Linked DNA regions of Homo sapiens: region 1 is linked to region 2. The links come from fine-mapping of genetic effects on gene expression. A gene starts in region 2. The other region holds a variant in brackets. All regions are shown on one strand. Distances are between the middles of the regions.

Region 1 (5,371 bases), 42 kb after region 2:
CTCTTCACCAAGAGTTAACACTTTTAGCATTTTCTTTTCCAAGGTGGAGTCTCATTCTGTCTCCCAGGCTGGAGTGCAGTGGCACAATCATGGTTCACTGCAGCCTCTAACTCCCAGGCTCAAGCGATCCTCCCACCTCAGCTTCCTGAGTAGCTGGGACTACAGGCACATGCCACCACACTCAGCTATTTTTTTAAAAAATTTTTTGTAGAGTCAAGGTCTTCCTATGTTGACCAGGCTGGTCTTGAACTCCTGGGCTCAAGCAATCTGCCCGCCTCGGCCTCCAAAAGTGCTGGGATTACGTGCATGAGGCACTGCGCCTGGCCTACTTTCAGCATTTTTATGTACGTCCTTCTAAGTTTTTTTTCTATGCTTATATATTTTCAAAATTTGCAATCTGCATGACCATGTATCCATTTTATCTCATGTGACTAAATTTATTTGGCTATGTTATGCTGCTGTGAAATAATGTGATTTCCATAAGCCTTCCTTAGCCATTATTCCATTGTTAGCTTAGGTTGTCTCTAACTTATGCCCCACAGCTGTAGCACTGACATGAACAGCCTTCTCCCATTCTTTATACACGCTGCAGAGCCCCTTTTGATTCTGTCCCAGATCCTCACCTCTCAATGTTCTGGTGGTTTTTCCTTTCTTCTCCTTCAGTGTCTCTCCTGCTATTCTGAGAATCCCAGCCCTGTGTTGGTGCTCCTGTTTTACATGTCTTAGCACCTCAGTTAAGTTTGCAGGGCTGAGTGGCTTTGAGACTTGTTCACTCTGGCTTCGTCCCAACATCAGAAATCCGGAGAAGCCACTCACAGTTCACATATCCCTCTCACCACTGGTGCTTTGCCTGGGTGATTGCTGTAACTTTCCACAAGCTAAGTCACTACCTACCAGCCCACCAAGTAGTCTTAATGCGGCCTTCAAATTCTCCAGCCCCCCATACCCGGACTTCCCTGCCTTCTTCCCTCTCTGTTCCCCACCCTCTTCAATCTGGCCTTCACATGGTTTTGCCACATGGTTAGTTTGTGTTAGTGAACTCAGATGCCACCGTGGAGCACTGTCTGCTCTTATGCAGAAAACGATGAAGTTCATTCTGCAGAACAAAATATACCCACAGAGTGGCTCACACCTGTAATCCTAGCGCTTTGGGAGGCCAAGGCAGGGGGATCACTTGAGCCCAAGAGTTTGAGACCAGCCTGGGCAACACAGTGGAACACCATCTTGACAGACAAATACAAAAATTAGCCGGGGGTGGTGGCGTGCACCTGTAGTCACAGCTTCTTGGGAGGCTGAGGTGAGAGAATCGCTTGAGCCCAGGAGGTTGAGGCTGCAGTGAGCTGTGATCATACCACTGCACTCCAGCCCGGGTGGGGTGGGGTAGGGAACAGAGTGAGGCCATCTTAAAAAAAAAAAAAAAACCGGAAATGCACCCACAGAGGAAGCAACCTTAGCAGTACCCTGCTCCACCCTGTTCGTGTCAGATGAGAAATAGAGGAATGGAGAGAAGTGACTTTCTCATGGTCACACAGCTGCTCAGGCCCCCTTCTGCATACATGTTAAAAGGAGCAAAACAAGCCAGCATTCAGGAGACTATTAGAAGGGTTGGAATCAAGAATGTCAACCTACTCAGAGGGCAAATTCAGGAAGAGATTTTTTTTAAAAAATTAAAGTCACCAGCGGCTCCTTGGAAACATTTACATTGTCCTTTCTGTGGAGAAAGAGGTGGATACTTTCACATTCACTAACTGTTCAAGTATTCATCAGATGCCTGTATTGTGCCCCACCCTGGGATACAGCAAGGAGCTAGGAGTAGCCCTTTCTCTCAGAAAGATCTAAATGCGGAAATATTGTCAACAGATCCTGTTCAGCTCCTGTCTCTGCTGCTTCGCTGTGTGGCCTTGGCGAGCTGTCTAACCTCCCTGTGTCTCTGATTCCTCATCTATAGAATAAGGTTATTGCAGAGAACTTGACTCAAGAGAAAATCATGCTTATTAAAGCTCTGAGCACAGACTCTGGCCCATAGTAAGGGCTGAAGAAGTAGCTGCTGTAGTAATACACTAAATTTCTGGTTGAAATTAGACTTACATTTCCTGCCTTTATTTGAAGATGCATAGATTTTCATAATATAATGTGTGTCTCTACAGGGTGTGTGTGTGTGTGTGTGTATGTGTGTGTGTGTGTGTGACACATATACAGACCTACCTTTTTGTTTTTAAACTTTTCCAGCAGATGTGATTAGTTTCTATGCTCTGCCCTCTTCTCATTCTAGGTGATGGGCTTTGGCCTCTACCTAATGGATGGAAATGTCAGTAACATTTACAAACTGGATGCCAAGAAGAGAATTAATCTTAGCAAAATTGATAAATTCTTTAAGGTCAGCAACTGGGGCTGGGGCTGGGCAGAGGGCTGAGGTTACCAGCGCCAAGATGTCTTTGGGGGAAAGGGATGAAATGAGCCAGAAAACTGTCAGGTTTTTTTAATTGAGCTGTAGCTCCAAAGATCCCAAGAGTAGGAAGAGGAGGAGAATAGAATGGCAGGGCCTCCAGCTGCCATTGATGGAGGCATTTATGCCCTAGAAGGCTGCTGCATGAAAGCCACACATCGTTCCAAGTTGCAGGATTCAGCTGGGATTTGGCTAGGAGGAGGCCCTGTGATTCTTTTCTGAATGCTG[CT/C]TTTTTTTTTTTTTCCTGAAGTCCCTTGTCACTTAAAGAGGTACATCCCAGAAGACAGCACCTGCTCTAATTTCCAGTATAAATCAGAGCTCGCAGAAGTAGAATGATTAAAGACTGGATTTTAAATTGGTTCACATTTGCAAAATCACAGCCTCTCACCTGGTACACCAGGGACCACCTCAGCTTGCCCTTACCTCTGGATAGAATGCCTCAGCAACGTTCATCATATACTCACTGTGTTTCAGTGCCTCTGAGAGTTGATCTTTTGGCCACAGATCTTTAAAAATTTGCAGTTAAACTAAGCCTCTTAGAATTTTGCAAAGGAATCTTACACTTTGGAATTAACTTCCCATGTTCTCAGTTTATTCTAGCATTGGGCACTGCCGACATGGAGCAAGCCTGAGAGGTCAGTCATGGGAAAGCCCAGATTAATATTCACAGCAGAACTCAGTGGTGTGACATGGAGGGCATTAGATCGAGCCTGAGTCCCACTGACTCTTCAAGGTTAAGGAAAAGGAACATAAGTCACTAAGAGGAATCCTGTGCCTTGGCTTTGCTTGTTTTCAAGGGTGGAACTTTTACTTTTCTCTAGAGTTGCCCCAGATGAAAATAGGGCTCATTTTGGGAGACCCTTGCAAAATCTTCCCTAAGTCAGCATGAATGAGATGAGGGTAGAAGAGAAATACAACCTCTCCCTTGGCAGGCCTGGGTGTAAGTCTGGCTCTGCCACTTAATAGCTGGATGACGTTGGGAAAGTCACTAAATCACTGAAACTGAGTTCCAAGTCTGAAAAATATGAATACCAAGGGTATCGGCTCTGTAGCGTTCCCTGGAGGATTCAGTGGGGTTACATAGATGACTCAGAGCCCTGGGTTGTATAATCCTGGCTTCTTGACTTCTAGCTGGTCTGACTTTATGAAAAATCACTTAAGCTGTTTAAGCTTCAGTTCTTCTTCTCTGAAATGGGAATGATAATAGTGCAGACTTCACAGGGCTATTGTGTGGCTTGAGATACTGTTTTTAAAGTGCTTGGCATAGTACCTAGTGCATGAGAAGCACATAATAAATACCAGCCTCCCCGCCATTTGCCCTGGTTTTTGGTCGGGAGTTGTTTGCCCTCTGGTGTTAGGTATTATTACGGTTTTAATTGCTTTGAAAGTACAGACTTTCTCAGGAAGACCAACAGCGCTCAGACACCTGCTTCTAGCCTAGAAATCATAACAGCAAGGATGCTTTAAGCCAGGGAAGATTCGAGTGGAAAGGACCCTGCACTGGGCAGCCATCCATCCAGTCCTTGGCCTTCACACATGCTGTTGGCTAAGTGACCTTGGACAAGTCACTTTGCCTCTCTGGGCTCCGTTGCCTAGAACATAGAGTTGGTTGGAGGCAGGGGAGGACCTATACGCTGGCTAGGGCTCCGTTTGGCTTCAGAGTCACATGGTAGCGTCATCGGAAGCAGAAACTAGGGGTCGGCCCCCAGGCACACACAGAGGCCTGCCTCCCACAGTGGGGTGGCAGCGAAGGCAGCCACCCCAACCCCTCCTCAGCATCTCACGAGCTGTGTTTGCTTCCTTTGCAGCAGCTGCAGGTGGTGCCCCTTTTCGGCGACATGCAGATAGAGCTGGCCAGATACATTAAGACCAGTGCTCACTATGAAGAGAACAAGTCCAAGTGAGTGCCTGCCGTAATGTCTCTCGGCTCCCGCAAGGATGCCCAGCCCGGGCAGAGAGCCGAGGGGCCACTTCAGCCCCTCCTCCCTCCCCAGATCCCTGGGCAGGTGGATTCCATCAGAACACAGGTGCCGGCCGGAGGGGAGCCGCGAGGGTGCTCTGAGCCCTTTTGTATCCGCCCTCTGCTGCCAGCTTCAAAAGGGCTCAGAGCACAGCCACGCCCCTTGTCCAGCCCAGCAGTGACTCGCATGTCCTCTCAGCAGGACAGCAGGAGTCCACCTCGTTCCCTGAAGAGTGGCCAGCCCTCAGTGGTCCAGTGAGGAGAGGTGGCGTTGTTCCTCCTCACACTGATCCTCTCAGGTTAGGTGACCGTGCGCTAAGTCCATCGTGCAGTCGACGTGAATTGGGTGGGCAGCCTCACCTTCGGCCGCTTTATAAACCACAATTCTGGGTCATCTATGCAAAGGCCTGGGGTGTCAGTGCTTCACTGAAGTTGGGGGGCTCCAACCTCTGCTGCTCTTTTGGTCTCTGAGGCTGTTAGGGAGGTTCCTTCTGTGTGCTTCTCGCCCGAAGTTATGGCCTCTCCACACAGAGGGGAACCAGCCGTCCTTTAGTCAAGGGCGAGTGTGTTGGCATCTTAAGAAGATATGAATGGAGTGTCCTTGAACTGCATCCGCCTGGAGCCTCTGCGAACAAGTGTCCAAAGGAAAGCTCATGTAGTCGCTTCATCACCCTCTGGCTGCTAGCGCGTGACGGGGTTTTGCAGGAAAAGCAGGGAATGGAGAATGCTGAACTCATTCCTCACTTTTCCCTGCCTGACTTCTCGACCAGCTGAAGCTGGCTGGGAGCGGAGGCTAGGGAAGTGACTGGGGTTGGGTGTGAGGGGCCGTGTGCTCCCCTCTCCACAGGTAACTCTTTGAGTGATATTGAAGGGAGGCCTGAGGAAGGCTGTCACTGTTCTACCATTCTTGTGAGAACCATATCAGGGCTTCTTTTGAAATAGTAAATTCTCCCCAGAATCTTTCT
Region 2 (5,371 bases):
TTACTGAACTCCTGTTAAGTACCAGGCTCCAAGGATGCAATGGGAAAGCAAGACAGACATATCCCTGCTCCCTTAGATTTTATGGTCTCATGGTGGAATACAGGGAAGTGTGTTGACAATTATAATGCAGACTAATACGTGGGGTGATAGAGGGAGCCCAGGCAGCTAAGGACACATAGACAACTAATCTCAAGCTAACCCAGACATGTAGGAATCTTGGAGGAAGCGACATCTAGAGGAATACCAGGAAGATGAACAGAACTTCATCAGGTAAACTGGGAAAAAGTGTGGAATGTGGAGGGAGGGAATGGGGGGACAGAAACTGCCATTGAAGAAGCCTTGCATGTACGAATGTCGAGCACAACAGAGAACACAGCAAGTTTGAGGAACTAAAAGCTGTTCCTTTTAGCTGAAGCACAGCAAGCTTGTTCACATGGAGAGATAGCTGCCAGCTCTTAAAGACCCTCTCCGGCCACTGGAGAGTTTGGGCTTCATCGGGGGGCAGTGGGGAGCTAGGGAAGTGCCTTAAGCCTGGGAGGGACGTGCCCTTTAACTCATGTAATTTTCCACATTCAGAGGGAAGTTGGAGAGCATCCAACTTACTTCACTTAACAGGTGAGGAAACAGGGGTGAGGCTCCTTGCCTAAGATCATTCTTCTGTTAGTTGCAAAACTAGAACCAAAAGGCAAGCCTCTGGATTTCCAACACAGTGGCTTCAAAAGACCATACTGCTCTCCTTTATACACAAATAGAACTCAGAGGTCGGAGTTATTTTTGCCTAAGATCTAACCAAATATATATGTAATAGTCTTTTCTGTTTTTAGGCAACTTGTTCCTGAAGGTGAAAAGACAGGGAAGGAACAACAGGGAGAAATACGTCTTCCAAAAAACTATACCATCTGCAATAATATGCCCCTTAGAATGAAAATCTGATTTATTGGGATTCTCATTGTTAAGTATTTGTAATCACTGAACTTGAAATCCCAAGGATCACGGTGGAAAATGAAACATTTTTTAAAAAGGAAACCTCAGTTCTGTTTTTAAACCCATCCTCCACAAACACCCCCACAGCTTTTCACACTGAACCAGGGAAGAAATGTATGTGTGTGTATATATATATATATATAAGTCATTTTTTTCCGAAATAGCAATTTGAATTGGAATTAGCGATTTAAGATCAAACCACAAGGAATTATGGATTCTGAGCACGTGGGAAATAAGGTGAGATCAGTAAAGGAAAGCAAAGGCTTCCACAAGTCCTTTGCTGGAGCTTGAATAACGGGGCTCCTCCACAAATTGCCCTTATTAGGAACAGCTGAGTGATTAAGTATAAATTTGTGGGCCTTAGGAAACCACTCCTTATATCTACATACACTCCACAATGTCTCAAATGTTTTCAAATTATTTACCCTGTAAGGTATAAAGGGCAACTGTTATTCCCTGTGTTGCAGATACGGTGACCTCTGTGGAGCAGAGTGGTGAAGTGACCTGCTCAGGTGTCTCAAGGTTAGAATTTGGTGCAGCCTGACTTCAGCCTGGTCTGAAGGCCTACCAGGCTGGATTTCAATGAGAATTGTTTCTTTCTCTTTTTCTTTTCTCTCTTTCTTTCTCTTCTTTCTTTCCTTCTCTTCTTTCTCTCTCTTTCTTTTTCTTTCTTCCTTTCTCTCTCTCTCTCTCCCCCCGTCTCTCTCTTTCATTCTTTTTTTTTTTTTTTTGAGACAGAGTCTCACTCTGTCACCCAGTCTGGAGTGCGGCGGCAGGATCATAGCTCACTGTAGCCTCAATCTCCCAGGCTCAAGCAATCCTCCCACCTCAGCCTCCTGAGTAGCTGGGACAAAAGGTGGATGCCACCACACCCATCTATTTTTTTTTTTTTTTAATTTTTAGTAGAGATGAAGTTTCGTTGAGTTGCCCAGGATGGTCTCCAATTCCTGAGCTCAAGCAATCCTCTCTCCTCGGCCTCCCAAAGTTTTGGTATTACAGGTGTGAGCCACCGCTGGGCAGATAATTGCTTCTTTAAAGAGCCCGACACGGCAGATAAGCCTTGAAGAGAAAGGTACCTGTCCTCTCAGTGCTTCCTGCCACCTATTTGTCCGTTAGGCAATTCTTCCAGAATGAAGTTGAGGCAGGCCCCTGTAAAAGAGGTGGCAGCTTCAGGGACTCTTCTCCAGGGAACTGGAAGGGAGCGGAAGAACTTATTCTTAAGCGAAGGAGCCCTATCAGCGACCAAGCTCAATTGGTGGAAGGCCCCTTCCCCTAGCCCCAGTTGCATCTTCTGTCACTTCACCCTGCTCCTTCTCCTCAGAGCACTTTGGGCTGTAACTGGACGTTTGCTAGGTTAATTTACACCTGTTTCTCCTGGCAGGTGATAAAACTCCAAGGGGGCAGGACCCTGTCTTTTGTACACCAGTGCACACCCAAGTCCTGGCACGGTACTTGGAACAGGATAGGTAATCAATAAAGACTGGGTTGATAAAAGAGCACTTGGAAATCATGTGGGGCCAATAAGATCCGAACGCGGCCGAAGCTCTCGTCCTCGGGTTGCTGCAGGTGTGGTTCCCGGTGATGGAGGCCGTGGAAGAAGCCTTCCCTCCCTTTCCCGCCCCCAGGGCAGGAAGCCTGGGGGCTGAGCGGTCCTCCGAAACCGAGAGGCAGGTCCTGGGTGCGCCGGCGGTACAGCGGAGAGCGTGGAGAGACCCTCGCCGCAGCCATTTCCTGCCCTTTGTGTGACAGCCGCTGCGGCGAAGGGGCGGGCGCTGGGTGGGGGCGGAGCCGCGGCGGGCGGAGCAGCGGGGCCGGGGCGGGGCCGAGCGCGGCGCAGCGGAGCGGGGCAGAGCATCCTGCGCCCCGGCGCGGGGCCCTGCGGTAGCCTCAGGCCCCTCCCCTGGACCCGCCGCAGAGCCAGGTAAGCGGCCCTCGCAGGCCTCGGGCCGGGCACGGGGACTAGGATGCCGCCGGGGACGGGGATGAGGCCGTGAGGATGCGCGAAGGGCCGCCCCCTCTCCCGGCCCGCGGGGGGCGCTCGGCGCTGTGCCCGGGCTAGCCCGAGGCCCGGCCTCAGGCCCCACGCGGCCCCTTTCCCCCTCGGACCCACCGTGCGTCCCGCGGCACGGACCCTCTGCCCGGGAGGCGCGGGCACATCGCGGAGCTCCGGCGCGGCGGCGGGGGAGCCGCAGCAGCAGGTGCGCGGCCTGGGCCGGAGCCGCCAGCCCGGGAGGAGGCGGTGCTAATCTCAGGGACCGGAGACACCTGCAGCGGCCGCGAGCCCGGCAGCGGCGACATCCTCGAGTCCAGGTACTGCAGAGCGCTGGCCCCTGCCTCTGCCGCCGTGACCACCGTCACCTCCCCCAGGGCCAGCGAGAGCCGCCTGGGCCCGCCTGGCAGCCGCCTCGGGCACACAGAACGTGTGATGGGTGGGGCGAGGGGCGCAGCGTCGATGTTTGGGGGCGGAGGGCTTTGATGAGAGAGGAGCAGGTCTGACCCGCTTGGAAGCTTTCTGGCCTACACTAGCATCGCTCACCAAGCTGGCTGCGGGCACGGTGGAAGTGGGGGAAGGGGATGAGTGGGCTGACTCCTGGGGGAAAAGGTGGTTTTTTTCTTGAGCTCTGAAGAACCAGGAAGATGCTTGCCTGTCTGTTGTGGCGTCTACTTTTCAGGTCAGCCCTACCCCTCACCCCAAAGAACAGCCCACCTATGTGCAAAAGAAGAGGAGGAGGTGCTCTCTGCTTGGGGATGGGGGCAGGTAGCATGTTCCACATAAGTATGGCCCTCTATATCCAGAACCCGGCTGGAAAGGACACTGACAGCCCAGGTGCCTCCCCAGCACAGGGAATCTGATTTTGACCTTTGCTTGCCTACTTTCCCCAGCACAGTGGAAACACTCACCAGGGCTGATGAGCCATCAGCTGTCCTTCCAGCTAGGCCAAGAATGGGACAAGGATCTTTTTCTGCTAGTTCCTGGGTGCCTGTGCCCTCAGCATGGGCAGGGAGACGGAGGCAGGCCTGCTGGCAGGAGGGGCAAATCAGGAGACTGTCGGTTCCTGTGTTCCCATTTCCTGCCTCCTGTCTGTGTCCCAGTTAGGGCAGTGGGTCTCACCTTACTCTTGGATACAGGCTGTGCCAGCAACCTGGGTCCCTGAGATCTTAGAGGGCAAAAATCAGGTCCATATCTTTGGGCAGGCCTGTGAAGGCCTTGATGGTTGCTTTCTCCACCATTAGACCCTCTCTCTGTGGCCCTCCTGGTGGCCTCCCACCTCCACTTCCATACAGTGCCCTGCCCTTCCCCCAGTCTCCAGTGTCAGAAATGGTTTTCAAGAAAGGAGCCAATGATTGTGTTTATCTTGAAGAGCTAAATACAAAAGAAGTTCCCATTTGATGCAGAGCAGGTGCTTTACAAGTCATTTGACCGGAAAAGAAACAGAGGATGGAGGCATTTTAATGGGAAACAAAGCTTTAATGGGAAACACTGTAGAAATATTTGCTATCACTAATGGTAGAATTTCAAACAGTGGGCTGGAAGTGGAGGTGGGGAGCTGGGTAGTTCTTTTGGGAACGGGTCCCTGAAATGACAATATCTAGCAGCTGTCAGCTCTGTATTTGGCAAGGGCAGCTTTGGCCCTGCAGGCAGGAATGCTGTAAGAGTGTGTATGCATGCATGTGCATGCGTGCATGTTTGTTTGACTGGTCAGGTGTTACTGTCACCAGAAGGCATTTTTTGAGCACCCAGTGTCCACTTTCGGGATGAGAAACTTGTGTACACAGGGTTCCTCGTTGGCATTGGCTGCCCTTTGCCAAGGCAATTATTAGACCTCAAGAAGATAGTGTTGTTGCTTACAAAGTCAGTGCCTCTAGCTAGTTGTGCGCACTGAGCCTCTGGCTGGGGGCATTAGCTCTCTGCTCACTAAGCTTCTTTATTATATTTCCTGGCCAGTTCTGACCGGTTCTGTAGGCACCCAAGGCTGCCTTGTTCAGTCCCTGCTGGAAAATGAAAAAGGAAAAACTTGCTTTAGGCATTAGGCCAAGAGTCGGATGTACAACCCAGTGGGGTTGGAGAGTTTTACTCAAATCAGATGCTGGCCCAGAGAAGGAAGTAGACATGAATTCAAAAACCGGTAAAAGGCCCTGGTAGAACACTACATGACCCCTCTGATAAATCATGCCCTCTCTGATGTTCAGTGGCCTCTGCTGCTGTCATCAACCAGAAAGCTGAATGAGATGATGAATCGGCTACAAGCTAATTAACGGGAAAAGCGCTCCTGGAAAACAGTACGGGTCCCAGTCCCTACGTTTAAAGATTGGACTACACTCTCAACGCAGCTTCTTTGGACCACTGTTGGCCCCAGGGGTCCACCAAAAGCGTCACAAAATGGCC

What was found.
Region 1: its variant is fine-mapped to the expression of CYFIP2 in whole blood (INTERVAL, PIP 0.94).

Annotation. Positions count from the first base shown.
Region 1 is chr5:157,305,489-157,310,859 of GRCh38, forward strand. It overlaps CYFIP2 (cytoplasmic FMR1 interacting protein 2), which reads left to right. Exons shown (of 31, transcript NM_001037333.3): 9 at 2,273-2,377; 10 at 4,255-4,346. Among named protein-coding and RNA genes, the nearest start is that of FNDC9, 38 kb to the right of the region's middle. The variant CT/C (reference allele first, on the strand shown) is at 2,675.
Region 2 is chr5:157,263,291-157,268,661 of GRCh38, forward strand. It overlaps CYFIP2 (cytoplasmic FMR1 interacting protein 2), which reads left to right and starts at 2,833. Exons shown (of 31, transcript NM_001037333.3): 1 at 2,833-2,905. RefSeq lists a silencer at 2,740-3,259 and an enhancer at 3,940-4,049.